Homo sapiens: one gene and its partners. The protein of the gene in region 6 purifies or fractionates together with the protein of the main gene of each other region. This does not show direct contact. Each region holds a gene or a part of one and is shown on either strand. Other genes may lie near its edges.

Evidence for each region.
Region 1: the proteins of FDFT1 (region 6) and SLC18A2 purify together in Homo sapiens (co-immunoprecipitation; one large-scale study listed by IntAct). This does not show direct contact.
Region 2: the proteins of FDFT1 (region 6) and RTL10 purify together in Homo sapiens (affinity purification with mass spectrometry; one large-scale study listed by BioGRID and IntAct). This does not show direct contact.
Region 3: the proteins of FDFT1 (region 6) and GDPD5 purify together in Homo sapiens (affinity purification with mass spectrometry; one large-scale study listed by BioGRID and IntAct). This does not show direct contact.
Region 4: the proteins of FDFT1 (region 6) and FAM174A purify together in Homo sapiens (co-immunoprecipitation; one large-scale study listed by IntAct). This does not show direct contact.
Region 5: the proteins of FDFT1 (region 6) and CDC45 purify together in Homo sapiens (affinity purification with mass spectrometry; one large-scale study listed by BioGRID and IntAct). This does not show direct contact.
Region 7: the proteins of FDFT1 (region 6) and FYB2 purify together in Homo sapiens (co-immunoprecipitation; one large-scale study listed by IntAct). This does not show direct contact.

The regions. Positions count from the first base shown.
Region 1 is NC_000010.11:117,243,853-117,248,185, forward strand, and holds part of SLC18A2 (synaptic vesicular amine transporter), read left to right. Parts: intron 1-118; coding exon 119-461; intron 462-4,333. UniProt on the Homo sapiens protein: Electrogenic antiporter that exchanges one cationic monoamine with two intravesicular protons across the membrane of secretory and synaptic vesicles.
Region 2 is NC_000022.11:19,848,761-19,852,707, forward strand, and holds part of RTL10 (protein Bop), read right to left. Parts: intron 3,727-3,947; 5' UTR 3,502-3,726; coding exon 2,407-3,501; 3' UTR 1-2,406. UniProt on the Homo sapiens protein: Could induce apoptosis in a BH3 domain-dependent manner. The direct interaction network of Bcl-2 family members may play a key role in modulation RTL10/BOP intrinsic apoptotic signaling activity.
Region 3 is NC_000011.10:75,518,966-75,523,298, forward strand, and holds part of GDPD5 (glycerophosphodiester phosphodiesterase domain-containing protein 5), read right to left. Parts: intron 2,893-4,333; exon of another isoform or gene 50-2,892; intron 1-49. UniProt on the Homo sapiens protein: Glycerophosphodiester phosphodiesterase that promotes neurite formation and drives spinal motor neuron differentiation.
Region 4 is NC_000005.10:100,541,232-100,545,564, reverse strand, and holds part of FAM174A (membrane protein FAM174A precursor), read right to left. Parts: intron 1-4,333.
Region 5 is NC_000022.11:19,517,347-19,521,368, reverse strand, and holds the end of CDC45 (cell division control protein 45 homolog), read right to left. Parts: intron 2,526-4,022; coding exon 2,461-2,525; 3' UTR 2,460-2,460; intron 889-2,459; 3' UTR 761-888; downstream 1-760. UniProt on the Homo sapiens protein: Required for initiation of chromosomal DNA replication. Core component of CDC45-MCM-GINS (CMG) helicase, the molecular machine that unwinds template DNA during replication, and around which the replisome is built.
Region 6 is NC_000008.11:11,822,819-11,827,151, reverse strand, and holds part of FDFT1 (squalene synthase), read right to left. Parts: intron 1,129-4,333; coding exon 937-1,128; intron 1-936. UniProt on the Homo sapiens protein: Catalyzes the condensation of 2 farnesyl pyrophosphate (FPP) moieties to form squalene. Proceeds in two distinct steps.
Region 7 is NC_000001.11:56,742,072-56,746,404, reverse strand, and holds part of FYB2 (FYN-binding protein 2), read left to right. Parts: intron 1-2,138; coding exon 2,139-2,253; intron 2,254-2,338; coding exon 2,339-2,379; intron 2,380-4,183; coding exon 4,184-4,244; intron 4,245-4,333. UniProt on the Homo sapiens protein: Adapter protein that plays a role in T-cell receptor (TCR)-mediated activation of signaling pathways. Required for T-cell activation and integrin-mediated T-cell adhesion in response to TCR stimulation.

The DNA of each region.
Region 1 (4,333 bases), on a different chromosome or scaffold from region 6:
TGGAATTACAGGTGTGAGCCACTGCTCCCTGCCGACACAACCATAGTTTTTTGCTGGCTTTTTTCCTGGAGAGGGTTTCAGTGTGATCACCACCTTGCCATTCTGCTCTTATCCCCAGTCCCCATCATCCCAAGTTATCTGTACAGCATTAAGCATGAGAAGAATGCTACAGAAATCCAGACGGCCAGGCCAGTGCACACTGCCTCCATCTCAGACAGCTTCCAGAGCATCTTCTCCTATTATGATAACTCGACTATGGTCACCGGGAATGCTACCAGAGACCTGACACTTCATCAGACCGCCACACAGCACATGGTGACCAACGCGTCCGCTGTTCCTTCCGACTGTCCCAGTGAAGACAAAGACCTCCTGAATGAAAACGTGCAAGTTGGTCTGTTGTTTGCCTCGAAAGCCACCGTCCAGCTCATCACCAACCCTTTCATAGGACTACTGACCAACAGGTAGGGCAGACTACTTTAGTCAAAGAGTTTGATATTTGTATCAGTCCTAGCTTATGTCCTTCCTGGAATTCTGCTTCTTACTCATTGGTGAGAGTCTGGAAAATCCATGGTGGGTGAGCTGGGGAAAACCCAGTCCCCTTCCCCTATGTCTCTGTTCCCAGATAACCACAATTTCCTATTCTATTCTCCCTTCTGTTGCTCAACAAGTAAGAAAATATTAAAGAAGACAGAATAAAGAGGACCTCTTCCACCAAGTGGGAGGACTTTGGCCTGTCTAAATGCCAGGTTTCGTAAGTGCATTTGTCAGAATCGCCCTTGGCAGCAGGAACTCTACAGCCACCATGGCTGTCATCCTATTTTATGAGCCATGTGGCCTCCTCTTATCTCCTACCTCAGGCCATGCACTTCTCTGTAGAGAGCCAAGGTGTCTTCTTTTGGAACTGGCATGTTAAAGCCTCTCACAGATACCAGGTAGGGAGTGTGGGAAAAGGTTGGACGCACTGGTGCGCAGATGGAGCTCCGAGTTGATGCCGAGGTCATGGGCTGTGTTCTTCCCTTCTGCTGGCTACGTAGCCACGTCCACGTGCATGAAAGGAAGAGAACTGAGGCTGTTGTCTGGATAATCCAAGCTGCCCAAACTAGCTTCAGATGAATCAGGCTGTTCTAGATTTTTTTGAACCCACATTGTTTGGAATAACTGTTTACTTCTCCATTGTTGGTGAAGTGTTTGTTCTTCTGTAGCTGAGGTGGACCAGTTCTGCCTGGTCCGTGGGGGCTCAAAGCTCAGGACAAGGGCCTTGCAGCTGAGAGGAGGAGGCAGGCCCCCAAGGTGTCAGTGCAAGGAGTGGGAGCTGGTACAGTTAAGTGTTGGTGGTGGGCTGCCAAGTGCGCAGTGTAGCTACCTAGGTGAAAGTTACAAAACACCAGAAATGGTGGGGAGGGGTGTGCCCAGAGTCCTACCTGCAGACCAGGCCCAGAAGCAGGAACAAAGACTAGACTAGAGATGGAAGAGATGGTGGCGAGGAGAGGGTGGAACTAAGGAGGCAGGGGAAACCAGGGCTGGGCTAGGCTGTAAGAGGCCCCAAGTGCTGGGCTGAGAAAGGAGTGGGATTCTGTGTGGGGCAGTTGGGAGCCATTAGAAATTCCAAAGCCAAAAAGAAATGAGTGAATCAAGCACTATTTTAAGCAGGGTAGGTGGGCAGGGAGCAGGGAGAACTTCACATTTCCTCTGCCTTTGGCGTGGGGAGTGGGGCGCAGGACTGGCTGCATAATTTGTGGGTCTCGGTGCAAAATGAAAATGTGTGCCCCACATTCAAACATTATGAAACACTTCAAGGTGGCAGCAGAGCATTAAATCAACCAAGCTCTGAGAGCAGAGCCCTGTGCGACTCTAGGGTTAGGGGCACCGAGAGGTGAGGAAGCCTGGGGTGGTGGCTGGGGCTCAAGGAGGGGATGGCAGATCTGGCCTTCCGCCAGCACAAGCTGCCTTGGACACATGGAGCTTGAGTCGGACAGGAGCACATTCTCAACATCTGCAGTTGAATTTTCTGGATGGAAGGGTGCCATTGAATTGATTTCAACAATCTCAAGCCATGTCCAGCCCTCTAGTCTGTGCAGAGCAATATTCTAAGGCTGCTACATAAAACATGCTAAGCAAATTAACCCAGCGAAGGGCTGACTGTGAGCCCATTAAGAAGGTGACATTCAGTGACTCCTCTGTTCTCAGGAGAAAAACCAAACCGACCTCAGTAGTTGCAGGATTGTTTTCTTTCCTTTTTTCAAGACTAAGAATGCTTCTTAAAATGCATCTGGTATAATTACAGAAAATAGCTCAGGGTTTTGTATTCTGAGAAAGCAAACAGCTCAAATATTGTATGTGAAAATTGAGGACATTATCGTAATAATACCTTGCCAATCACTTGGGTGGAACGTTACTAGCCGTACAGTGTAATACTTAGAAATTCGGCTGAAATGATGTGAGTACTCCAATCTTCCAAACGCAAATGGCAAATGAAAAGCTTTTTTAAAAATCCCATTCTTATTTTTAATGCTTTGCTTATGCCATGGGGAAGAGGCTTGTTTAAAACCAGTGAGCTCTTTCCCCTGTTAAATACTCCAACGGCTTTGAGGCTGTAGCCACACCAGGCTCATGTTTGGGACTTCAAAAACATTATCTTCCATTTTGTGACTTGTGAAATTTAGTCTATTCTCATGGTGAGTAATCCACTTTAGAAATTATCTAGAGCAAAATTGTAATCCCCAACTGTTTTGTCCAGCTACCGAGCAAATTTGAAAATGATTTTCTAGTGCTGCCTGGTAATATGGAAGGACAAACAAATTTTTTTTTCTTTTTTTTTGAGATAGAGTCTTGCTCTGTCACCCAGGCTGGAGTGCAGCAGTGTGATCTTGGCTCACTGCAACCTCCACCTCCTGGGTTCAAGCAATTCACATGTCTCAGTCTCCTCAGTAGCTGGGATTACAGGCGTGCACCACTATGCCTGGCTATTTTTTGTATTTTTTGGTAGAGACGAGGTTTCACCATGTTGGCCAAGCTGGTGTCGAACTCCTGACCTCAGGTGATCTGCCCACCTCGGCCTCCCAAAGTGCTGGGATTACAGGCGTGAGCCACCGCCCTCAGCGAGCAAATAAATTTTCATATTGTGATCCTGATTTGTAATTTGTCTCATAATTTCCAAGCCCAGTAGATATGAATTTGGGGACTGGGCAGCTCTTCTGGACACTCCAAGATTCTGCTTCCCACCGCAGTTCAGATGGATTCAGAGAAGGGACAAATGTGCATTCCATTTGCCTTTAATTGTCTTCAAGGAGTTAACTTGTGAGCCATTGCAAACAGTCTTTTGATGTAAACTGTGCCAATCACATCCTCCATGAGCAAGATGTATGACTCAAGTCTTCAGTGTTGTAAACAAATGTGTTTAAAGGCTTTTTAAAATTGGTTAATATGTTTCTGATTAAAGAGTAGTTAAAAATATGGAGCATCAGAGCTTGCAGAGACTTTTCCTGAAAGCTTTTGGGCCAGTCCTAGCATTTTATAGGCAAAGGAGTTTGCAGTTCAGGAGGAGAAAGCATTTACCACAACAGTGGCAGGACTGTAGCCACATGTTCCGACTGTCCCATTTCAAGCTTTGTTCTTCCCCGCTTCCTGTTCTTCCCACCTGCTTACAATTATACAGCTTGTACCTTTAGCTACTAGAAATAAAGAATGCAGCTCAAAATCTGTCTTTCTTGCACTGACTTGGGCTCTTCCTGGTTGTACCAGGCAGAACTGCTGGAGACCCAGTGAGTTGCTGATTTTGCTACTTTTAATCAATGAGCAGAGAGTTTAGAAAAGATCAGCCTGATTCCTGTGGACATGGAACCTCCCTGGTCCCTGAAATATTCAGTCTTTTTCCAGTCCCTGATGTGAACTGGTCCAGCCTCGTGCATCCCTAAAGATGTGTGGGGAAAGCTTCCTGTAGTCAGGCTGGGCAGAGCTATTCTTTTCCAAAGCTGCTTGTTTTAACTGAAGTGGGACCCACTCTGAATCGAGACATTCTACACCACACCACACCATAACTGGAATCCTCTATTCACAGTCGTGATGGTGCCATGTGTGTGGCTTTTGTGGGTAGGAGTCACAAAATGTAGGCCGCCTGTTTATTTATTTATTTATTTAGACAGGGTCTTGCTCTATTGCCCAGGCTGGAGTGCAGTGGGGCTATCTCGGCTCACTGCAACCTCTACCTCCCAGGTTCAAGCAATTCTCCTGCCTCAGCCTCCTGAGTAGCTGAGACTACATGCCACCATGCCTGGCTAATTTTTTTTGTATTTTAGTAGAGATGGGGTTTCAGCATTTGGCCAGGCTGATCTCG
Region 2 (3,947 bases), on a different chromosome or scaffold from region 6:
GGCACAAAAGCCCCAAAGCCCCAATAGGACAGGGTTCAAAAGAGAAGGCAGCAATCCCAGGCTGGAGTATCCACTTCAGGTCCACTAAAGGGAGATGGGGAAGGTGGCCTGTCCAGAAGCCTGTGGGACAGGGTAAAGGTCAGCTGGGTGACTAGGCTGTCCATCCTAGAGAGCAACTCTGGGTTCTACTGCCAGACCCACAGGTGAGCCAGGCCACAGTGCACTGGAGGTAGGCATCAGGGAGCAGTCTGACCCAACCCACAAAAGGGGGGATGGGGCCTGAGTCATCGGACGGAGGGCAGCTGTGACCTGGCACAGAAGCATGGGGCTGGGCCAGGACATCCAGGGACTTCTCACATCTGACCAGAATCAAGACTGAAAATGGGTTTCTTCTGCCAGCTCACTTGCTTTGCTACCAGGGCTATACCTGCTTTCTAAAAATAGCTTCCCACCTATTTCCAAGGTTTCCAGTTGTTTTACCTACAAGGTATCTGTGCCCTGAAATAACTCACACATAAAACCATCTGAACCCAGAGCCTTTTCTAGTGATAGTTACCATAAAATAATCCCAACAATTTATATTTTTCTAAATAAGGTTTTTGTTTTTTGTTGTTTTTTTTTTTTTGGGATGGAGTTTCACTCTTGTTGTCCAGGCTGGAGTGCAATGGCGTGATCTCGGCTCACCACACCCTCTGCCTCCTGGGTTCAAGCAATTCTTCTGCCTCAGCCTCCCAAGTAGCTGAGATTACAGGCATGCACCACCACACTTGGCTAATTTTGTATTTTTAGGAGAGATGGATTTCTCCATGCTGGTCAGGCTGGTCTTGAACTCCTGACCTCAGGTGATCCACCCACCTTGGCCTCCCAGAGTGCTGGGATTACAGGTGTGAGACACTGCTCCCGGCCAGTTTCTGAATAAGTTTAATCAGATGCTTGCTAATTAGTTTTTCCTAAAATAGTTGGCTGTATTTCCAATTCACATTTCTGCTTTTTCTTCCTACTTTCCAGGAAGGTGTTGTTTTGTTGTTTTCACAATTGTAAACCTGAAAGGGACTTGAACTTCTTGTCCAAGCACCAGAGTGGGCACACACTGCACACACTGGGCGGCTGTACCTGCCTATCCTGTGGTAAACTTGGCTCCAGGAGCTTCCAAGCTCAGCTTCCACTAGAAAACCCCTCCTTGTGTGGAACAGGTCTTTCTTCATTCCATTCCTCTGGGCCTGGGGCCTCACAGCTCTGGACTGCTGCCTGGTCCTCACTTCACCTACAGCTCTCGGAAGTCAGTTCTCTACCTGCAGAGCCACCCACCCCCTACTCAGCCCCACCCAGCTTCTTTGATCAGACCCTTGGACCCTCAAAGCCCCTGCCAGAAACCACAGCTGCAATGCTGACCTGGAATGCTCATGGCCAGGCCTCTGCTCCTGACAGAATGGGAAACAAAGACTTGCTGGTAGGCAGCCACTGCACCACCTCAGCCAGTAATCCAACACGTGTTTAATGAGCACCAATTGTGTACCAGGCCACAGAGCTGACTAAGACAGAGCCCCTGTGCTGAGGGTCACAGTCTGCCAGGAGGGAGATCCAAGTCATTTACACACTAGGGCTTAAGTGCTGAATCCGCAATGCATGCGAGTGCGGAGTGAGCAGGGGATGGCAGCACAGCAGCAGGGAAGAGGAGCCTGCTTCAGAACACCAGGCACGATTAGAGCTACAGTGTTAACACACAAAGGGCGAATGCCTGCAGCTGAGCCTGGCAAGGGGCTTGCATCCCACCTTCCTGCATCCAAACCTTCCAGCTGCCCAGAACTGCTGGTAATCCCACAGGAAACATCATTCTTTGCCAAGATGCTATCCCACTCATCCCCCAGAATCAAAGTGGCCACTTCCTCCAGGCAGCCTTCCTCACATTCCAGCTGGGACAGAAGTCACAGGGAGCAGAGAGGGTGGGGCTAGGGGGACAGACACAGAAACCCCATACAGGAACGAGGTCCCAACAGGGCAGACGTGGCAGACCCAGTTCAGTCCCAGCCAGTGTGGAAGACACCAAGGGGGGTGTTTTATGGGGGTGGAGGTGACAAAGATGATGCAACTATCTGCTGAGAGTTGATCTACAAAACGACCCCCTCGTGGGAGCAGGCCTGGGTGAGACGGCACTCCCAGAAGACGGGCAGGGATGCAGCAGAGAGCCAGCAGCAGGGAAAGGGCACAGGGCGGAGGTCAAGCTCTGCTGGAGTTGGGGGAGCTGGTTCTGCTCAGCGCAGAGTCCAAAACAAGCGCATCTTGCCCAGCTATGGGGTCTGAAGTCATCTGGGGACACCACTCTGCTCTGACTGGGGACTATGGGGCGCTCAAGCCACACAGGCCACTTCATCATGAGGGGCAGCATTGTTCCCACCTGGGCTGTGTTCAGAACCCAGGAGAAAGTGGTGGCTCTCCTGGGGTCTCCGGGGCCTCCACCACCTCCTGTGGGGTACCTAAGGACACCTCCTGGTCTCCCTCTGTCTCCAAAACCTCCTCCTCTGTTTTCTGGGGTTTTGGACCTCCTGGATGAGCTGGGTCTGGTCTCTGGGCAGGAGGATTAGCTGACTCCGACAGTCTAGGGACAGGTGTGGGGGCTGCCTCCTCTGGCTGGGAAGAGGCTGGTTCCACAGGACCAGGCTTGGAGCTACATGTAGAACTGGGCAGGACTGGGGGCTCCTTGGGCCCAGGGGTGCTCTCCTTGGTCAGCTGCTGCTCGAACAGAGCACTTCTAGATACAGAGTTGGACCCAGACACAGCAGGGGTGGCCATGGCGGCTGGTAAAGACCTGGGGGCAGTACCCATGTCGAGTGCCAGGCCCTCTAAGAACCTAGCTAAGTATTGCCTCACCACAGGCAGCTGAGGGGCCACTGGCAGCTGGCTGGAGGCCAGGGGCAGGGGACAGGTAACCACAGCATGGTACTCAGCAAAACTGTTCGGGTCTTGAACAACTTCCTTGAGATCCTGGCAGAAGAGCTCGTAATCGTCAGGCAGGGGCAGGTCCCCATCAAGGTAGGGGGCTGCCCAGGCCTGGGCTCGGCCTGTTAGGCGCCTGAGGATCTCGCAGACACGGCTGATGTTGTCCTGATAGTGCTCAAAGTGGAAGGACATGTAATCGCCCAGCTGGGCCAAGAAGCGGTCCAGTAGCCACGGGGAGCCATCAAAGGTGCCTGGGTCTGAGCCTGGTACCCAGCAGAAGTCCACCCTGTGGGGTCGGGAGCTGGGCATGTGCCCAGCTAGGGGACCCCTTTCTGCAGGTTTACCGCCACAAGTGCCACTAGCTGTGCTCTTCTGCTCCATGGTCGTTCGCACACACACGGTGTCCCCACAGCAGGGCCGCTCAATCCAGGGATCCACAAGGGGGGTGTATGCCACCCCAGGAGACGCCTTGTCCATCTGCTGCCATGGATGTGCGTTGGCATAATTGGCGGCTGCCCAGATGGGAATGCGAGGGCCCTGCTGACGGCACCGGCCACGAGGCATGCTGGGAGCACAGGGGAGAAGAGAGGAGAGCCAGCACTGGTGGGTGGTGGGGGTGTGGACAGATGTGGCTTGCACGACACAACAGGACAGGGATGGCTGAACAGGGCGTGGCAGACCCGCACTGGTCCAGGCAAGTGCTGAGGATCAGGGAGCTGACAGCTGCAGCCTCAGGAGAGCTGAGAAGAGCTGAGAGACTGTCAGTCGCAGGCCATCATCCGAGGCAATCTGTCCAAAGACAAGGTGGGGAAGAGCAGGAACTAGGCCTAACCATCACCCACTGGACTGGTGGGAAGAGGCTACAAGCGGGCAACCCTCTGGTACCCAACTAGGAGCTTTGAATGGAAGGAGGGGCCCAGGGGGCTGGCCTGGGAGGTCTGAGGTGGGCAAATGCTGCCTATGACATTGCAAGGGCAAGGCAGAATGACAGATGCTGTCAATTTCAGAAG
Region 3 (4,333 bases), on a different chromosome or scaffold from region 6:
GCAAGAAGATAAAAGAACTCAAAGCAGGCCTGTTTATCCTTTTCTGCAGGAGATTTGGTCACAAGCCTGGGAAGAGCTGAGCCTGTCAGACCAGCAGCCCACACTTCCTCCCCACCTGCCTTTCCGCCTTCCTCATGCCCTGAAAGCAGAATGTCACAGATGGAGAGATGGTGTGGGTTGGTGGGAAGTGAGAGGCCTGTGGAGTCCACTGGTCCTGGGGTCTGCCCAAGCTCTCCTCCTTGCCAGCTACCTTTGGAGAGGAGCTACTCCTCTCTCAGCTCATTCAGTGCTGATCTCACAGAGGTCCAAAGTCAGCAACATGGGCACCACCTCCAGGAAGGCTTCCCTGACTCCCCTCCCCACCCAGCGCCGGGCAACCCCAGGCCCCTGGCCTTCCCTGTCACATTCTGTGTTGTCACTGCTTCTGTGTCCTCCCAACCCTACCAGGCTGTTCATTCATTCATTCCACGGAGCAGCTGCCCTTTGCCTGGGATTCATTCCAAACGCCTTTCCTGAGCACCTGTTTTCTCTAAGATCCTCTGTGAGGTGCTGGAGATACAGATCATAACAGCTAACCTGCACTGAGTGCTCATTATGTGCTGGGCATTTTTTTGAGTGCTTTACACGTATAATTCATTTCACCCTCACAACTCTATGATGAAGATGCTGTAATTATCCCCATTTTACATATGGGGAAACTAAAGCCCAAAGAGGTTAAATCACTTGCCCAAGTCATTTAGCCCTACCCTGTGCCACCAGCCACAGATACTGATGGGACCGGCCCCTGCCTCAGGAGCCTGCTTCTCACAATTTGGAAGTTTTGCATCTGTGTGTTTCCTTGTCTAATGCTGTTTCCCCCACAGACCAGAATCTCCAACCATGTTACATTTCGGTTGGATGTGTGTGTGAGCAGCACCAAATAAATGCTGCTTCCCTTTAAGGAAGAACTCACACTCTCTGCCCAGCATCTGCTAGCTGGACGCCAGACGGCTTCTCCCACCTGGGTCATTTCTTCTGCGTAGGCCTGAGAAGAAAACCCAAGTCCCCAGATATCCCAGTCCTGCTCCCTCCCCTGAACCTAGCTCGGGACCCTTCCAGGCCAACAGCACCTGCTTACACACCACTGTTCACAGGGAAGGTGGTGGGAACTGTGAATCTGCAAACCCCAGCTAAGTCCCCCTAAGGGAAGGCCTCCCTGCCATCTGGCACGCCCTCCCTCCAGCCATCACTCACTGGACTCTTCCATCAGCTTCTTACTGAGTTGCTCGTTCACGAAGCCATCGAGGGGATGGGCAAGAAGACTCATGCTGATGGAGTACCCACCTGTGTGCCAGGCCTGGACAGGCACCCCACTTCCTTCATCTCATTTAATAACAGTTATTATCAGCCCCAATGTACAGGGAAAAAACAGAGGTGCAAAAGTTGAGCAAGTTGTCCATGGGGCAGCTTGCACTGCCTCCCCTGGCCCGGAGGGTGTGGCTCTGTGCCAGGCACACTGCTAGGCACTCAGAGGGAGGGGAGGATTCGGTGGGGGCACATAGAATCTAGTTTTGACAAGCCAGCAAGGGAAGCAGACCAAGCAGAACCCCAATCCACAGACCACAGTCAGTGTGCAGAGGGCCATGAATCAGCAGCAGAGGAGGCTTGGATCCCACCTGCATGGGAGGAGTACTGGAAGCTTATAGCAGGCAGCATCTTTGGACCTGGTTGAACTCCTTACTGCTCTTTCCCATGGTCACAGCAGGAGAAAGGGTAAGCCTTGGCCTACAAAGCTCTGGTGCCCAGTGTGTGTTTGCCACCACCCCAAAGGGGGCAAAGGGAGGAGAAGCTGGCTGCCCTGCCAGTGACCCCGCTGTGGCCCGGCCAGCCTGCCTCCAGTCCCGCCAACTTGGCCTGGCCTGGCCCAGCCAGTTCCCAATCACAGGGTCTCCTCTGCCAGCTAATGACCATGCTGCCTGCAGCTCAGGCCACCACCCTCCTTTGGGCGAGGCAGCTACCCACACAGCCTGCTGGCCCAGACAGTGGCCAGGCCAAAAATCACAGCTGCCCGTCATACCACATCCTCTGGCCCTGGTGCTGTGGTCTCCTCCTCCTCCCTCCAGGGTCACGAAAGACGATGTAGAAAGCTGGAGCTACAGGGGAGCTCAGAACCCACCCTGCTCCCCATAGACATGGACACACGGGACCCCAGAGAGGGGCCGACTCACCCCAGGTCACACAGACAACCAGCCAGCCTGTGCACGGCCTAGGGCCCAGGTCCTTCCTGGGCCCCATGCTCAGTCCAACACTGCCCTTCCTTAGCCTTGAGAAAAAACCTTGTCCAGGCTTTTTACACACAAAGTATGCTTTCAAGGTACTTGGGTGGAGGTGAGGAGACAGGACATCTTCTAAGCACAGATTTACAATTCAAACAGATGCAGCTTGGCTCCCTGCTCCCTACCTTTGAGCTGTGTGACCTCGGGCAAGATCAGGTACCTCTCTGAGCCCCAGTTTCTAGGGGATAACAGTAGCTACCTCAGGGAGTTTGTGTGAACAAGAGTGTCTATAAAACATTTAGCACATTGTCTGGCTCATAGTAAGTACTCAAGATATCAGCTGTTGTTGATATCATCACTGTAGTATTGTGTGGATACATTTTACAAACTGCAAAATGTTATGGATAGTAGGTATTATTTTTTACTATTACTGCTGAATGTTAAAGATTCAGAGGGGGCATGACCAGAGGGTTGGGTAATCCAGGAATGTTTCTGAGGGAATTTATGACCTCAGTCAGGTCTTGACAGGTGGGGAGGTAAGTGGAGCAGAGGCAGGGATGGCGGTTCTGATGGGAGGAACCACAAACAAAGGGGCTGTGATGGGGCCACATGTGGTGTGTTTAGGAGACAGTGCAGAGCAATGAGCCAGAAGGCCGGGCAGAGGCTAAGGTGACCAAGGACCTGAATGCCATAACTAGGGCCTGGTCTTCATCTTACAGGCCGTAAGGAGCCACAGAGGCTTCTAAATGGGGGCTCCATTAAGCTTTCTGAAATGTGAGTTCTGTCTAACATTCAAGGCCCTCTCCTATATGGGCATTCACCCCTCACTAACCCCACCAAGCCATCCTCCTCGCCCCAAGTTCTCCCTACCTCTCGGCTTACCACGCTATCCCACCTGCCCCGCCACTAGCCCACTAGCTCACACTCATGATGAGGCACCCCCTTGTTGAGTGCCTAAAGTGCCGTGTGTTTCACACATGGGACCTCAAGATGATCCTTAACAGCCTTGAGAAGTGGACATCACAACCGTCATTTCACAAAGGGGGAAATGGAGGCCTGATGGGATCATGTGTCTTTCCCATGCTCTCAGTGAGGCGGTGGCACAGCCAGGATTCCTTCTTGGAGGGATGTCAGGACCCCCCGTCTTTGCAGCAAGTTTCCTCTAGCTCCTGCCCAGACAGCCACCTCCCTGACAAAGCCTTCCTGGTTACTCCAGTCCTCAAGGGCCTCCCCTCCACCCCTTTCTGCCCTGTACCCTCCCCCTTACTCCTCCCCGTCACCACCTCTCTGGAATCAGAGGCCCACTTGATCCTAGCTCAGCTAGCTTGGTTCCCAGTGTTGCCTGTGGGACCATCTGGCCCCCAACAGAAGAGACAGGACATCATCAACCCCAGCTCTCTCCTGTTGGGGGCCAGATGACACTTTCTCCCTGTCCTATCCTGCCTGCCCCCCCATATCCAAGACTGCTAACAGCACAGACAGGAGCCCCCACCTCCTCTGGTAGGGTTCAGAAGCTCACTGAACATAGAGCTATTTCCCTGAGCCTGCCCCCAGCTGAGGGGAGTATTAATTATTCACTGCACCTTGGTGCCTAGGGAGGTCAGACAATGGGCCCGAGGGAATGGACACCAGCTCCAGGCACCACAGCCCTGCCAGCAGGAAGCCAAGGGAGGGGGTAAGAATCCAGAGCCCCTTGCCGGTGTCCCCAAGCAGACTGATTCTAGAGGCTATGAGACTAGGGGAGTGTGACCCACACAGCAGCCTGAGCTGAGCAAATTCAGGTCTCTGAGCCTGCCCTGCAACCATATCCTGCGTTCTAATCGAAGACAAGTCTGAGAATTTCCCCAGACTTCCTGGTCAAACTTCAAGCTTCCTTTTCTTCATAGGGATGGAAACGGATATTTGGCCAGGCACTGCATCTTTGTAGCTCATTTAATCCTCGCAACAACCTGCTAAAGGAGGTATTCTAATTTTATAGGCTCAGAGGGATGAAGTGATTTGCTCAGTGCCACTCAGCTAGTGGGAGGCACAGTAGACTCACGCCCACCTGGTCTGTCTGATTTACCACTATCTGGGAT
Region 4 (4,333 bases), on a different chromosome or scaffold from region 6:
TATATTACCCCTTTTACATTACAAAAACATAATACAGTTTGGCTACACAGAAAGAATTGACATTACATGCCAACCAAAATCTCACAACAGTCAATATCTTCATGTTCTATGAATTTTCAACTCTATACCACTTTCTTCTTCCAGAAAAAAAAAGGATTATTAAAGAATATAGCAATAAAAATCTATCCAAAAACGCCAAGGAAAACCTGATTTCTTAAGAAAGTAACTTCAATTACTATAAGATTCTCAATTTATGATTTAAGTATTTCTCTAGATATGTTTTATATCATACTGAACAATGCAAATTACCAACATATCTTTCAACCCAATTTCAACATTTTACCATATTTCTCATATTTTAGAAAAGATCAAACCTAAGTAATTTTTTAAATGTAGTCTTCACCAAAGATAAAATTAGAATCAAATGCAATAATATAGAAGAGAAATACTACAATGGGCACTGGAGATCATGACAAAAGAACTCAGGAACTTTGAAGTGTAGGAGTAGAGGTGATACTCAAGATATTTAGCTATTTAACAACTGGCAGGGCATAAGGACCATCTAGTCAGAATAGACGCTTGCTGTAGCAATGGGTCCAGAAACACTGGTAGAGTGTATTGGTAGATACCACCTGAGCATTGCTACCAGTTGATAGTAATGTTCAAATGCTATTGATTTTGTTTTCAGAAAAACTTTGCAATAACTAACCAGAAGCATCTCAATCTAGTTTCTCCATTTTGTCCCACATTCAACCTCTATCAATTACAGAGGAATGCATTTTCTGGTTGTACTCTAATACCCTGAGGACTGCAGTCATGTTAGATATACACTGGTGAATAATCTGCACATTATCTTGGGTAAATACATGCAAATATACACCTGTTAAAAAAACTGACTTCTCTGCACAAGCATATATCATGAGGCTCCAGTATGGAATTGAAATGAGTTAAAATGACTACATTATTGCAGGATTGATGTTAACACCACTCTCACACAGCTACCTCACATTTTTAATCTTCATTTACATGTTTTGATTTCACATACATTATTTCTTTTTTATTCTTTTCCTTTATCTTTCTTTCTCCTCTTTTCCCCCTCTCTCTCCTCTCCTTCTCTCTCTGTCTCTCGATCTCTCTCTCTCTCTCTCTCTCTCTCCAGGATCTCATCTGTTTGAGGATGCAGGAGTACAAATGCAGGGGTACAAATGCAGGGGTATGACCTTGGCCTCAACTGTTTCCGGGATGCAGGGGTACAAATGCAGGGGTACGACCTTGACTTCCTGGACTCCAGTGATTCACTTCAGTTTCTTGAGTAGCTGGGGCCACAGGTCACCACAACTAGCTAATTTTTTCTTTTTTTCATTTTAGTAGGGATGAAGTCTCACTATATTGCCCAGGCTGGTCTCAACCCCTGGATTCAAGCAGTTTGCCTGCCTCAGAATCCCAAAATGCTGGGATTACAGGCATAAGCCACCATGCCCAGCCTGATACATTATTTCTTATTTCCTTTTGATATTAATTCAGAAAACGTGAAAATCTACTATTTTCTAAATAAGGTATAAAAAGCAAACAGTGTAGAAAAGAAGACAGAAACAGAACCACCTATTATAGTCCCCTGGAAATAATGTCATAACACAGGTATTCTCAAAATGGTCTGGAATCACAGAGATTTCCCAGTAGAGTACATGTTCCATTTCATCTTCAAAGACAACCAGGAGTTAAACAAGAGAATAAAGAAAGAATGCAAAGAATTCCATCCTTGAAAAATGTACTTGCATAAAAATATAGTTCACTAGAGACTGGAAGACAAGATAAAATAAAAAATGATGGCCGGTAGTCCCAGCCACTCGGGGAGGCTGAGGCAGGAGAATCGTCTGAATCCATGAGGTGGAGGTTGCAGTGAGCTAAGACTGTGCCACTCCCCTCCAGCCTGGGTGACAGAGGGAGACTCCATGTCAAAAACACCAAAAAATCTGATTAAGGAGCTAATTAAATACTAAAGAGTATGAACATTGATCCCATGAAATGCCATAGAATTGTGCTACCCAATAGAACTTTCTGCAGTGATGGACATATTCTGCATTGTTCTGTCCAATACAGTTGCCACTAACAACATGTGATTATTTAGCCCTCAAAATGTGGCTAGTTGGCGGGTGAAGTGGCTCACACCTGTAATCCCAGCACTTTAGGAGGCCAAGGCAGGCAGATCACTTGAGCTCAAGAGTTCGAGACCAGCTTAGGCAACATGGCAAAACCAAATTTCTATAAAAAATACAATAAATAGCTGGGTGTGGTGGCGTGCGCCTGTAGTCCCACCTACTTGGGAGGCTGAGGTGGGAGGATGGCTTGAGCCCGGGAGGCAGAGGTTGCAGTGAGCTGAGCCAGACCTTGTCTCTAAATAAATAAAAGAAATGCAGCTAGTATATCTAATGGACTGGAATTTTACATTTTATTTTTCATTAACTTTGTTTGAGACAAGGTCTTGCTCTGTCATGAAAGGTGGAGTGCAGTAGTGTGATCATCACACACTGCAGTCTTAATATCCTAGGTTTGAGTGATCCTCCCACTTCAGCCTCCCAAACAGCTGGAACTTACAGGCCTGCACTGCTATACCCAGTATGTGTATATACATATATATTACACACACACATATATATACACACACACATATACCCCCTACACATGTGTGTGAATATTATACACACACACACACACACATATATATATATAAATATAATAAGCAGGATCTCACTATATTGCCCAAGCTGGTCTCAAACTCCTGGACTCAAGAGATCCTCCCACCTTGGCCTCCCAAAGTGCTGGGATTACAAACGTAAGCCACTGTGCCCAGGTAACATAAGTTTTTAAATAGCCACCTGTACCTACTGGCTACCATATTGGACAGTGTAGCAATAAAGGATTATAAGCACACACATAGTATGATAGATTTACATCTCAGAGGGAACACCATCTGTTCAGTGTTGAAGGTAAATTGAAAGAGAGACAGGTGAAGTGGAGAAAAGTTAGAAACAATAGCACAATAATCTAGTGATGTGAACCTAAACTAATGTAAGGTCAATTGAGCTCATAAAGCAGCAATATAGTCAAGAAATATTTAGCAATTGAAATTGGATGACTGTATGTGAATGGTAAGCAAAAGAGAGACATGGGATGACTTAGGTTTCTAGTTTGAGAAACTGTGTAGATGATGGTGTTATTCTCCTTATAAAGAGAGTACAGCAAGATTTGTCCAGGGATAAAAATACTGTTTCAAGCTTAAACTTGAAAACAAGTCTGAATCATCTATCCCGTAAGAAGTTGGCTGGCTATACATGTCTGTAACTCAGAAAGTAATTAACAGCTTAGAGGTGGCCATTAAGGAAATGAATTTTGGATGGATCACCCAGGGAACATGGACAGTGAAAGCAGGGCCCAGAAAACACTGTCAGTTGGGAGGTGAAAGTCATTCTCTTCCACAAAAATTCAATGCATCTCGTTGTATTCTAGGAATCAGATTGGGCCTTTAGGGACCAAAGATGAGTAAGACAGAGGCCCTGCTCTCCAGACATTAGCTTGTAGAAGAGTCCTAATTAGGAAGAAGAGTTCATGGAATAAGAAATTCATGAAGAAGCTAGGCAAGAAATACTCAAGGAGGTAAGAAGAAAATCAGAAGAGATGTCTCAGAAGTCAAAGTAAGAACCAGTGCACTGAGTGCTACAGAAAAGGGGAAAATATCCATGAAACTGAGACAATGTGCTTATTAACCATCTTCTGCATGAGTAATTCTAGAGTGGTAGAATTAGAAGCCAGACTACAAAAAGCATAAGAGAGAATGAAAGGCATGGAAATGGGAACATTTCAATGGAAAATCTCTCTCCTGTCCTATGACAAGAGCTTTATTTAGATTCCCTCCTTAATGTCTTCTTAGGTATCTTCCTTTCCCATATCTTCAATATTTCCTTCTGTACTTGCTCTTTCCCCACTAATGGCATTTAAACAAGACTGGATAGTTCATTCTTAAATGGACCCCTTTCTACAGCTCTCATCCAATACTTCTCCCTGCCTGCACAGTTAAGAGTGAAATGAAATATATCCAAGCAGAAAAGGTCAACTGAAAATAGATTCAGTTACAGGGCAAGTTTGTAAAAGATTTATGCTGATTAGAGATAAATATTTAGTCTTCTACAAAAATATAATAGTTTTTGTTATGTTATGAAGTGGCTTTTCAGATGGCTTTGTCTAACAGGAATGATATTTAAGAGCAGCCTTCTCCAAATAGCTTCAGCTCTTGCTGCCACATTCCCAAAAGTTTAGTTTATTACCACAAAAAGCA
Region 5 (4,022 bases), on a different chromosome or scaffold from region 6:
AGCTACTCGGGAGGCTGAGACAGGAGAACCACTTGAACTCGGGAGGCAGAGGTTGCAGTGTGCCGAGATCGCACCAACTGCACTCTAGTCTGGTGACAGAGCGAGACTCTGTCTCAAAAAAAGGAAAGAAAGGGCATGGAAAGGAAGCTGCACAGCCTTTGAATTTTCCCAAATGGCCAGGGTAGGCAGCTCAAGGGTCCCGGGAAGCTGTGCAAACCACCAGAGGTGAGGGGAGGGGCCCAGCCTCCAGTCCAGCTCTCACCCTTTTGTGCCCACTGCCCTTTGCCAAGGGCTGCACCAAGACCAGCCCCACCTACCTGTGTGCTCTTTTCCAGGCCACTCTTTCTGAGCTTTTCCCCACTGACTTAAAACCTACCCAAATCACTCCTGCCTTCAAAGACCTGGAAAAGAGTGCTGGATGGTGAGACCCACAGGTGGAGGGATGGCTGAGAGGGTGGACTTGCTATGTGGCTGAGGCCAGGTGGACCAGAGGAAGTGGTAGGTGGACAGAGCCAGGTGCTGGCTGGCACCACCAGGCAGTGGCCGGTGCAGGTGCTATGAGGAGGCGGGGATGCCGAGGGGTCCTGACCTCTGTCCACTGCCACCCGGAGGGCCTGGAGGACAGAGTAAGGAGATCTTGTCCTTGGGGCCAATCCCCATGCTGATTTCCTGCCAGGCACTGAGGGCTCCTGGGGCCCAAGACCCACAGAAGGCTCAGAGCACACTCAAGCACTGGCCTCGAGACCAGAGCCACAATGGGGACGGAGCCTAAAATAAGCATTTTATTTAATAAAAAATGGCTTCTACATCTCAAATCATGTCCATAACTTACAATCTAAATGAAAGCCAGTTACATAAATAAGAAGGTCATTCTGGAAGAATCAAATTCTAGAAAACAAAACAAGAAAAAACAAGTTTCAAACGATGTTGATGTGCCACCGAATTGAAGAAACTGCCCAGGCGTCCCCTCTGGGTAGTGCTGCTGAGTAGCCAGGACTGCTTGTGGGGGTGAGGCCACCCCAGACTCGGAGGCCCCTGCTGTCCTCATAGCACCCCTTGACTGGGCTGAGCTGTCCTACATCAGAGCTCCTGCCCCCTGGCCCGGGCACCTTCTTACCTCACGGACCCCGCCCAGCTGCTCAGCCAGCCCCCTGGCACCCTCCCATGGGGGCTCTCCCTCCATCCCTCGGCACTCTGCTGCTCAGCCCTCCTAGCCCAGGCCACCTGTGCCCCTGCCTCAGTGGAAGGACACACAGCAGCATAACATCACCACCAAGCAGGCTGCAGGGGAGGGGTTTGCCTCTAGCACCCACTCCACTGCCAGAGAGCCCCACCTCTGCCTCCGCCCCACCCTATGCAGTCCTGTGATGCTCACACTCATCGTCTAAGGAGAGAGTGGGCCCCATTTTTGGATGAGGAAACAGGCTAAGCCTGATTAGGTGGCTGGCCCAAGGTCACTGCTGATGACCCTACAGAACTTGCCAAAAACCCCGAGGGTCTGACTCAGAGCCCCGCGCCCAAAATGGGCCCCATGTAGCCCAGGCCACCCTGAGAGGAACTGTGGGGTCCCTGAGGCCCCCTATGCTGTTGTCAGCAGAAACCCCCACTCCAGCCCCAACAGGAGAACAGGTGCTTGCCCCTGGAGGGATGGACAGATGGATGGATGGACGGACGGATGGGAGAGTGGGGAGGACCCCAGGCCTGGCCTGAGGGACCTCCTGCAACAGAGTCTTGGCAGGGCCCATCTGCCACAGCCGCAGCCTCCAGGCTAGGGCTCTGGGAGATGCAGGGCTGGATGTGGCATTCCCTGTGGGGAACCTGGGCTGAGAGATGGTTACAAAGACACAAGGCAGGCCTATTTCCTGGGAACCCTTAAGAAAGAGGTAGCACATGGGGCAGTGGGAGGTGTCCCGGGACAGTGACCTGCCAGTGAATCCCAATGGGGCCCTCAGGACAGCTGTGTGCTGGTGAAGGCCCCAGCAGAACCAGCGCTTTGGAATTCCCAGCTAAGCGGCTGCCAACAGCTTTGCTTTCTCATGAGCCAAGCACACAAAAGCCCGGATGGCTGCTCTGCGGGCTCTTGCCCAGCGCCTGACACGAAGGCTGTGGGACAGGAGGCTCCAGGTGGCCTTCGAGGGCAGCACCAGGGAGTCTGTGTGTGACATGTGTCACACGCGATGCCCAGCCCAAGTGTGGTCAGCAGAGGGTGAATACCAGCTCTTTCTGAAGGGATCGCAGGGGCTTAATGAAATTAGCTGCCTCAAAATGCCCCATTGTGGCCCTGCTGGCAGCCTAAGGACAGATGTGCTTGGGAAAAATGTGTTGGCTCCAATCTCAAGAACCCTGCTTCGGTCTGAAACCCAAGTAGAAGCCTCCGTTGAGGGAGGACAGAGCAGGGCATCAGGGTCGGGCTCTGAGGGGGCTGCTGCAGCCACCCCTGCAGAACCCCTGTAACTCACCCTAGGACAGGAGGGAAATAAGTGCGTCCAGAAACTTGCTCCGATCCTCAGCTTTCAGCTCAATTACTGAAGTAATGAAAGAAAAACAGCCGTGAGAAGGGAGGAGTGGGAACACAAGACAGGGCACAGAACTCCCCTCCGCTGCCTGCCCTCCACTGCATTCCAAAGTGCGCGGCTCCTCCCGGCCTGTGGTATTCTGCACTCAGTGGTTGTGTCTGTCTCACTGTACTTCATCTTCACAACTGCTGTCTGCACTGCTAGAGAGGTCAGGGTTGGGGCCTGCAGGGAGAACTCCCCCCCGGGAAGACAATAGAGGTGACACAGGGAAGGGCCCTACAGACCTGGACAAACACGGGCCTGCCCACCCCAGCTGGCATGAACCCCCGTCCCCAGAGTGGGTTGTGGAAGTCCTTGGGTGGGGCAGGTCACTTTTGGCCGCACTCTGGCCAATTCCTCGGCTTCAGTGTTCTCTTCCGCACAAGGGGACATGGTGCAAACTGCCCATATCTCACAGGGCCCTCAGGCTCAGCTGAGCACCCAGACCCTCACCACAAAGCAAAACCAGGCCCCAGGATGGGGCTGGCCTGGCCCTGGGAGCCATCTATGCTGCCAGCCACAGCCCCGAGAGCCCCAGACCCAGCCCACGCAGGTGGGCACTAGACATGGCCCACTCTGCACCCTCACCCCTGGCTCTCCACCCTCAGGGAAACCAAGCAGTTCCCAGCCCGAGTCCTCCCTGTATACTGAAGGCCAGATATTCTGCAGGCCAGTGGGTGTCCATCCACCTCTCCCACATCACAGGCACAAAAGAGTTAGCAGGGGCTGCTGTGCGGGGTGAACCAATGCCACACAGTGCCACAGCCATGGCTGGGTCTGGCTCAAGGAAGGCAGCTCTGAGATGGCTGACGCCACTTCAACAAAGGCTGGATCTCCCATGACAGTGTCTATCATTGTTGAGGAATCCGTGGTGATGAGGCAAGAAAATATCCTTTCTCAGAGGTGCAGGAAGTACTGAGGGTGTTATGAGCTGAACGGTCTCCCCCACATCTCTATGTTGAAGCCCTTACCCCCAGGACCTTAGAATGTGACTATGGTAATTAAGTTCAAATGTGGTTGTTAGGGTGGGCTCTAATCCAATCTGTCTGGTGTCCTTGGAAGATGAAACGGTTTGGACACAGACACCAAGGAGGTATGCAGAGGAAAGACCACGTGAGGACACAGTGAGAAGGTGGTCATCTGTGTGAGCCAAGGAGAGAGGCCTGAGGAGAAGCCAGCCCTGCCCCACCTTGACCTGGGCCTTCTCGCCTCTAGGACTGGGAGGAGACACGTGGTTGAAGCCACCCTGTCTGTGGCACTTTGTTATGGCAGCTTTAGCAAACTAACCCGGGGTGAAATATCAATACGTCTGTTTTACTTTAAAACCTGTCAACAATAATAAGAACGCCAACACAGCCGAATGTGAACCATGTTCCGTGCTGGTGCTGGGGAAGCAGTGGGCAGGCAGGCCTATCCATTCTGGGCTCATCTGACACACAGGTGGGGCCGGTGTCCCAGCCATCTCAC
Region 6 (4,333 bases):
ACACTTTTATGGAAAGCAAAAGGTAAATGCTGGAATAAATTCAGGGAACAGTCATAAAATTTTCTACTTTCCTTCTGAACAAAATCAGTATCAAAAGCTTTCTGTTCCCTGTCCATGTTTTAATTAAAGATCGACCCTGTCCCTTATTACAGACACCTGGAGTTTTTGTCTACCTGCCATCCCTTTCCCCTTCCTGCTGCAGAATTCTTTCTTTGGGGGAAATCCATTCTGTGTGTACTGTGTAGACGTAATCCAGGCGAGGCCAGAGAACTCAGCTGTGTAGCAACAGTAACTGATTCAGGGCTGAGCAGAAGAACCAAGCCCTTCCTCTTCTTTTGAGAGGGAGTCTCACTCTGTCGCCCAGGCTGGAGTGCAGTGGCACAATCTGAGCTCACCGCAATCTCTGCTTCCTGGGTTCAAGCGATTCTCCTGCCTCAGCCTCCCAGGTAGCTGGGATTACAAGCCCTTGCCACCACGCCCGGCTAATTTTTGTATTTTTTAGTAAACACGGGGTTTCACGATGTTGGCCAGGCTGGTCTCGAACTCCTGGCCTCAGGTGATCCGCCCACCTTGGCCTCTCAAACTGTTGGGATTACAGGCATGAGCCACTGCGCCAGGCCGAACAAAGCCATTCCTAAGAACTTTTTGTTAAGCTAGTGCACATGGGTTGTTACCATATCCACCACTTGGAGAAAGACCGTCTGAAAGAAATCAAGGACAGCAAGGCTTGAATATACTGATTACGTGGTGTGAATCCTGGGAGTCAGCCAGTCTACCTGAAGCAAACTCATGTCAAGCTATCCTATTTTCCACATCCCCTTATGCTGCCTGGGGGAGGCCTGACTTGTTTTTCTGTCACCCGCAACCACAAGAGTTAAAGGATTTTTCAGAGAATGTCTAAAGTTATTTTCCCCCAAAATACCCTGAATCTGTTACCTCTTGAGGCCAGAACTCTCTTCCTCCTTGCTGGTCTTCCAGATAGTCACGGATGATGTTTGTTTTCTGCAAAAACAGGCCCATAGAGTTGGCACGTTCTGTATCTTCACCAACTAAGGGGTCTTCAAACTCTGAGGCTGAGAAAAGACGGGAAAGGCCAATTCCGACCAGCCCAGCAACATAGTGGCAGTACTGTAAGAGACGATTTTTAAAGCACTTTAATAATGGAATTTTTACTGAAATGGACACACTAGAGATCATTAGCTACAAAAAAGCAGGTTCAAAAGAGAATGGGTAAGAATGCATTTTGATTTTAAAATACAAATATACATACCAGGATTTAAAAAACATTCAAGAAGGATGTGCTCAAAACATTTCATAGCAGTCTCTGGCTGACGGGAATTTGATGTTTTTATTTTTCACTTGTATTTTCCAAATTTCTACAATACACATGTACTGCTACTATAATAAAAGGCTACTGAAAAAAACTAGTAAACATTTTTTTATTTTTATTTTTTATTTTTTTTTTGAGATGGAGTCTCATATATTTGCCCACGTTAGACTCAAACTACTGGACCCAAGCAATCTTTCTGCCTCAGCTTCCCGAACAGCTGGGATTGTAGGCAAATACCACCGTGTCTAGCTTTACAATAACTTTTTTTTTTTTTTTTTTTTTGAGATCAAGTCTCACTTTGTCCCCTGGGCTGGAGTGCACTGGCACAATCTCAACTCACTGCAACCTCTGCCTCTTGGGTTCAAGTGATTCTCCTGCCTCAGCTTCCTGAGTAGCTGGAATTAAAGCACCCACCACCACATCCAGCTAATTTTTTATTTTTAGTAGAGACGGGGTTTCACCATGTTGGCCACGCTGGTCTCGAACTCCTGACCTCAACTGATCTGCCAGCCTTGGCCTCCCAAAGTGCTGGGATTACCAGCCCAAGACACCGTGCCCGCCCTAGCTTTACAATAAACTTTTTGATACATAAAACTATGAGAGAAGGCAACGATGAAAGATGGAATATTCTGGTAACAGGAACTAGGACAATACCAACTATGGTTTAATCTTTTTTTGACCAATCTGATAACATGTCAAGATCCGCAGGCCCTCAAAATCATCATTATATGAAAGAACAAATAACTATTTTATGTTCTTGACACGGTTTTAAGAACTCTGCACATTCAGCCGGGCACGATGGCTCATGCCTGTAATCCCAGCACTTTGGGAAGCTGAGACGGGCGGATCACGAGATCAGGAGATCAAGACCATCCTGGCTAAGACGGTGAAACCCCGTCTCTACTAAAAATACAAAAAAATTAGCTGGCCTGGTGGCGGGTGCCTGTAGTCCCAGCTACTCAGAAGGCTAAGGCAGGAGAATGGCGTGAACCCAGGAGGTGGAGCTTGCAGGGAGCCGAGATCGCGCCACTGCACTCCAGCCTGGGCGACAGAGTGAGACTCCGTCTCAAAACAACAACAACAGAAAAAAAGAACTCTGCACATTCAATCCTCACAAACATTGTATCAGGTACATAGCAGTATGATCTCCATTTCAGATGAGGAAACTGAGGCACAAAGAAGTCGATTTAACTTGCCCAACATTGCCCATGTGAGAAAAAAAAAAAATTAGCCAGGCACAGTGACACAGGCCAGTGGTCCCAGTTACTCAGGGGGCTGAAGTAGGAGGCTCGCTTGAACCCAGGAAGGTTCAAGGGGCTGCCGTGTCTGTGGCAGGGGCTAAGAGTTCAAAACTAGGTAGTATGACTTAAGTGTCAGGCTTTAACAACTTTGCTAAAACTTCCCCTTTTCTTTTTAGTTTTTCTTTTAGAGACAACGTAACTTCCCCTCTCTCAACAGAGATTTCAGTAAATGCAACTCTTAATTGCCAAATACTTTTTTTTTCCGCGACAGCAATTTGTCAAAAGCTGTCCTCCTCTGAAAAGGGTATCCTAAGACAACTTAATGCAATATCCACATACAATAATTGTCTATTAGTTAACTTAAGAAGCAAAAGTAAAGAAGGTAAGCTCTGGAGTGTCATTAGGAAGGGTAAAAGTTAGGAAATGACCGAAGTTCACGCCTGTAATCCCGGAATTTTGGGAGGCTGTGGAGAGGGGACTGCTTGAGCCCAAGAGTTTTAGACCAGCCTGGCCAACAAAGCAAGACCTCATCTCTGTAAAAAATTTTAAAAGGCTGAGTGTAGTGGCTCACACCTGGGAGGCTAAGGCAGGTGAATCGCTTGAGCCCAGGAGCTCAAGACCAGCCTAGGCAACACGATGAAACCCTGTCTCTACCAAAAAATTACAAAAATTAGCCTGGTGTAGTGGTGTGGACCTATAGTCCCAGCTAATGGGGAGGCTGAGGTGAGAGGACTGCTTGAGCACAGGAGGTGAAGGCTGCAGTGAGCCTTGATCATGCCACTACACTCCAGCCTGGGTGACAGAGCAATACCCTGTCTCAAAAATAATAAAAATTAAAATAAATTAGCCAGGCATGGTGGCAACGTGCCTGTGGTCCCAGTTACTCAGGAGGCTGAGGGCAAGGAAGATTGCTTGAGCCCAGAAGGTCAAGGCTGCCTTGTCTGTGCCACTGCATTCCAGTCTGGGTGACAGAGTGAGACCCTGTCTCAAAAAAAAAAAGTCGTCTCTGACTGAAAGTAATACAAAGCCAGAGACTAATCAGGGGGAAGAATGCACAGGTGAAGAGAAAGCACTTGAAATTTGTTCTGGGACAAAAGTAACATGAAAAGAGTGAAATCTTGCTGAAATTAGGTAGACAGAAATTGGCTTTGGACAGCTATACAAAATCTTCAAAAGAATTACTAGAAATTTAAAAAAAAATTAGTATATCTATAGTACTATCCAAAAATATATTTGAAGATAATAGTTCTTTTGGTAGAAATACTCCTAAAATGGAGACTTATATAATTCATCTTCCCCCAAAGTAGAAGAAAAAAAATAACTCCTTGAAATAATTGGCTGGTCATGCCTGTAATCCCAACATTTGAGAGGCCAGAGTGGGAGGACTGTTTGATGCCAGGAGTTTGAGACTAGCCTGGGCAACATGGCAAAACCCTCTCTCTACAAAAAATGTACAAAAATGAGCCTGGTATGGTGTCATGCACTGTAGTTACAGCTACTCGGTAGGCTGAGGTGGGAGGATCACCTGAGCCCAGGAGGTTGAGGCTGCGGGGAGCCGTGATCACACCACTACACACCAGCCTGGATAACAGCAAGACCCTGTCTCAAAAAAAATTTTTTTTAATTCAATTTTATCTGATCAAAACTTCTATTCAACAACCTAAAATTAAGTTTCCTGAATAAATCTGCACAACAGAAAATGAGTTACTATCATAACCAGTGCTGGTTCTTGGCCAGAAGTTTTAACTTCAACTTTATTTTC
Region 7 (4,333 bases), on a different chromosome or scaffold from region 6:
CTTTAGTCAGATGAAGATAAGAAAAACATGGAACAAATAAAAATATGTACTAAGATAATAGATAAAAATTTAAAAATATCAGTAAACACTATAAATGTAATGCACTAAATTCACCAGTGAGAAGACACATGCATTCAAATCATTCGAAATTCAAATATATTAAGTACTTTTTATGTGCCCAGCACTGTTCTAGGAAATGGGGGTGTATAGCAGTGAACAGGCAAAAATTCCTTTTCTCACAGAGGTTACTTTCGGATCAGAGGAGACGGACAATAAATAATAAAAGATCTATATTGAATGGTATTAATAGTAAATATGAAAAAATAAAGCAAGCTAAGAGAATTAAAGAAGCAGGTAGAGGTGATAGAGGTTGCCATTTTAAAGTGCTCATAGATTACTTCAAAAACCTCAAGTAGTTGAGGAAGAGAGCCATATGTGTATCTAGGATATGAATGACCTAGGAAGAGAAAAAAAGTGCAAATCCCTGAGGCAGAAGTTGGCCAGATATGTTGGAGGAGCTGCAAGGAGGCCAGTGTGGCTAGAACAGAGTAACCGAGGAAGAGTATAGTAGGAGATGGGGTCACAGAAATAACAAGGGACTTCTGTAGATCACTGCAAGAACTTTAGCATTTACCATAAATGAGATTTTTAAAACCACTGAAAGCTTTTGCAAGTACAAGAAAGGCATGACCTGATTTGCATTTTAAAAAATCATCTGGCTTCTGTCTTGAAAATAAAATGTGAGATAAATCGGGGAGACCGGTTAGGAGGTTATTGCAATAATTTAGGTGAGAAATGGTGGTAGCTTGGAGGAGGATACTATGGTAGAATTGCTGAGATGTATTTGAAATCGGAATATAATTTGAAACTACAGTGGACAGATGGCTTTGGATTGGAAGTGAGAAATGAGAGAGAAATGAATCGAGGATGTCTCCAAGGTTTTGGGCCTGAGCAACATAAAGGATGGAATTGCCCCTTTTATGAGATTGAATAAACTTCAGGAAGAGCAAACTTGCAGAGAGAAATTATGATTTTGGTTTGGAATGTAATATGTTTAGACAACCAAAAGGAAATGGTGTGAAGGCTGATAAAGTATCTGGAATTCATGAGAGATGTCTAAATTGGAGATGTAAATTTGAGAGTCGTCAGTGTTTTTAAAATGAAGGCATAAACTTTTGCATTTGCTTCAGCCAAAAGGAAGGATTGAGGAAGGAAATAAATGCTGCAGACTAAGAAGAAACTGTGTGTGTTCAGCATCTTTATTTTGTATTGGAGAAATTTACTGATAACTCCTTGAGAAAAAGTAGGACCTTATGCCTCTGAGAGCTGACATTCATTGAGATGGTTTGGGGCCTACACGCTCACTGACTTCTTGTCAGAGGATAAAATCTTATTGCTTGGTTCATTTAATTAATAGATACCAGTTAATGTGCTTGTTGTTTATTTCTCAAGTATATTACTTTCTATTTCTGATTAATAGTTCATATCTGAATATGGCTATGAATTACCCATACCCTAAATATTAACCTATGCCAACAGATAAAGAGGTGGCAGTTTTATGGTTATGACAAGTTTACAACTCTGTGAAGTAAGCCAGCATCTACTTGTGCAAACAATCCCTATACATTTGTTAACCTGGCACACTATCTTCTGGCTAACTCCAGAATGAATTAATGAATAATATATATTGATATGTGCTCAATCGACTTGTCTGAGAAATTTTGCTTTAAGAACTGCCGTAAGACTGGATAAGATCATCTAGATGTAGAGAGATAAGCCCCAGGGATGTACCCTGGTAGACTTCAAAGTTTGAGGTCAGGGATTAAAGGAAGAACCATCAAAGAAGGGAGTTACTAGTTTACTAGGTAACCAGCACCCTTCATAAATATGTATTTAATCCTTGCCAAAACCACATGATTCGGTGTTAGCATCATTATCCTCAACTTCAGAGAATCATAACTGAGGCTCTACAAAGTGAAGTGGCTTGCCCAAGGATCATACATACCAAGACTGTAATCCAATTTTAGCCCATTTAATCTGCCTTTTCTTATGCTTGCCTCCACTGCCAGTGATGTGTGTGAATGACTTTATGATGGCAGCTGATGTGATGTTTTTCAGGTTTTCTGGTTTCCTTTCAGGTGGGCATCTGGAGGTTTTGGAGTCAACTAAAGAAACTCCAGACCTAGGGGTCTCTAAGACAAGTTCCATCTCGGAGGAGATATATGATGATGTCGAGTACTCCAGGAAAGAGGTGTAAGTAACATTCCAGTCTTTCAGCAAGATGAATGTGATGAGACTTTAAAGGTACAATAATGGTCTTTGTTATTTTCTCCCATAGACCGAAGCTGAACTACTCTAGCTCACTTGCCTCAAGTAGTGGTAAGTATAGGAAGACATTTCTGAAGTTGCCAGTAGGAATTGCAGAATGCTTCTATGGCTGATTAGTGATAAGATGTCTTTTAATTATTCATATTTTAATAATGCCAATTTGTGGGAAGCTAAGAGAAGCAATACCAAGATATGTGCTAACAGCAATACCAAGGTATGTGCTAATAAATGCATTTAGAATCAGGAACATGAAGATGCTGGTAAGAGCATTCTTATGGTAAAAGTGAGTTTACTTCCTTCCTGATCTTTTCACAGTGTAAGTCTGATTATAGGACTGTTTTTACTTAAAACACTTTCTTGGCTTTCCAATACTTTTAAGATTGGCTTCTGACATGATCTAGAGTCCTTGACTAACCTACCCCTACAGACCTCTGGAGCCTCATCTCACACTGTACTCAATCTTCATCTTTGAGACCCAGTTATGCTGACCTTCTTTTAGCTTGTATAATTTGCCAAGCTCCAACAGCAGGATATTTTCATATGCTTTTCCCTCCCTTTCCGGAATGCTCTTTCCTCCCCTGGGTACCTTTGTTTCACTGACTCTTAATCTTCTAATCTCAGCTCAATCATTATTTCCACAGGGAATATTCTCCTTGGTGTACAATCTCATAGTACCATGGACTTCTTTTTCATAGTACTTGTCACAGTTGTAATTTTATACTTATGTGACTTTTTAATTAATGTCTCCCCTCCTAGATTATTACCTTCTTTATACATACCATTTTCTCCAGCCCCTAGCATAATGCCAAGTACATGTTAGATATTCAAAAAAATCTGTTGAATGAAGGAATTCATGAATGAAAAAGTAATGGGGAGGTATTGGTCAAAGGATACAAAATTTCAATTAGGAGAAGTACCTTCAGGAAGTTTATAGTACAACAGTGATTATAGTTAATAACAAAAGTATTATATACTTGAAAATTGCTGAGAGTAGATTTTAAAATTCTCACCACAAAAAATATGTGAGGTAATGAATACATTAACTGGCTTGACTTAGTCATTCCACTATGTATACAATTATCAAAACATGTTATATATCATAAGTATATATAATTATTATTTGTCAATTTTAAAATAAATTTTAGAAAAAGAAAAAGCAATGGAGTGGAGAGAATCAAATGTTACTCTGATTGATCTTAGAATCTCAGAAGTTTAGAGGGAAAAACAACCTTAAATATCATTAAACCCAGTACACTCATTTTAAAAAGAAAATTGAAACATAGAGAAGTGACTCCTCTAAGATCATTGTGTGTTAAAGTTGAGTTTTGAACCTAAAAATCCTGACCCTGATATTCAAAATTCTTTCCATTAGACTCTGTTTCAGGATTGAATTAAAGTATAACTGTGTATGTTAAGCTTATGTGTTGGGCTAGGCCAAAGCCATGCTGTGAAGGGAGAGATTATTCAAGATATATCTCATTTTCCATGGTTGCCCCAGCATTCAGCGCAATGCCTGATGCTTAGTAAATTCTGATTGTTATGTATTAAATACAGGAAGGAGGGAGGGTGGAAGGAAGGAATCTATTGAAGAACCAACTTTCTTTGACTAAATCAGTTCAAATTTGGAATCAGGTGGAAATGAGTCTTAATTTTCATTTATACATACTTTTATAGAGGTTTAAGTATTTTTACCATATGCTTTTAAAAACATGTGGGTGAGTTTCAGTAAAAACTATTTAACAAAAGAAAGATCAAAGTACCTAGCATCTAGTAAGTATCTAATACTTTTTGTTAAATATGAATCTGAACTATTGCTATTATAATGAATATAAGTAGGGTTTTCTTCTAATTTCAGAAGAAAATAGAGAACTGTATGAAGATGTCTACAAAACAAAGAACAACTACCCAAAGATAGAGTGAGTTTCTCTCTTTCTTGGCTTTGTAGGCTAATGACTTCCTGTTAGTCTAGTAAAGCCAGAGTTTCAGTGAGGACCCACCATCCGCC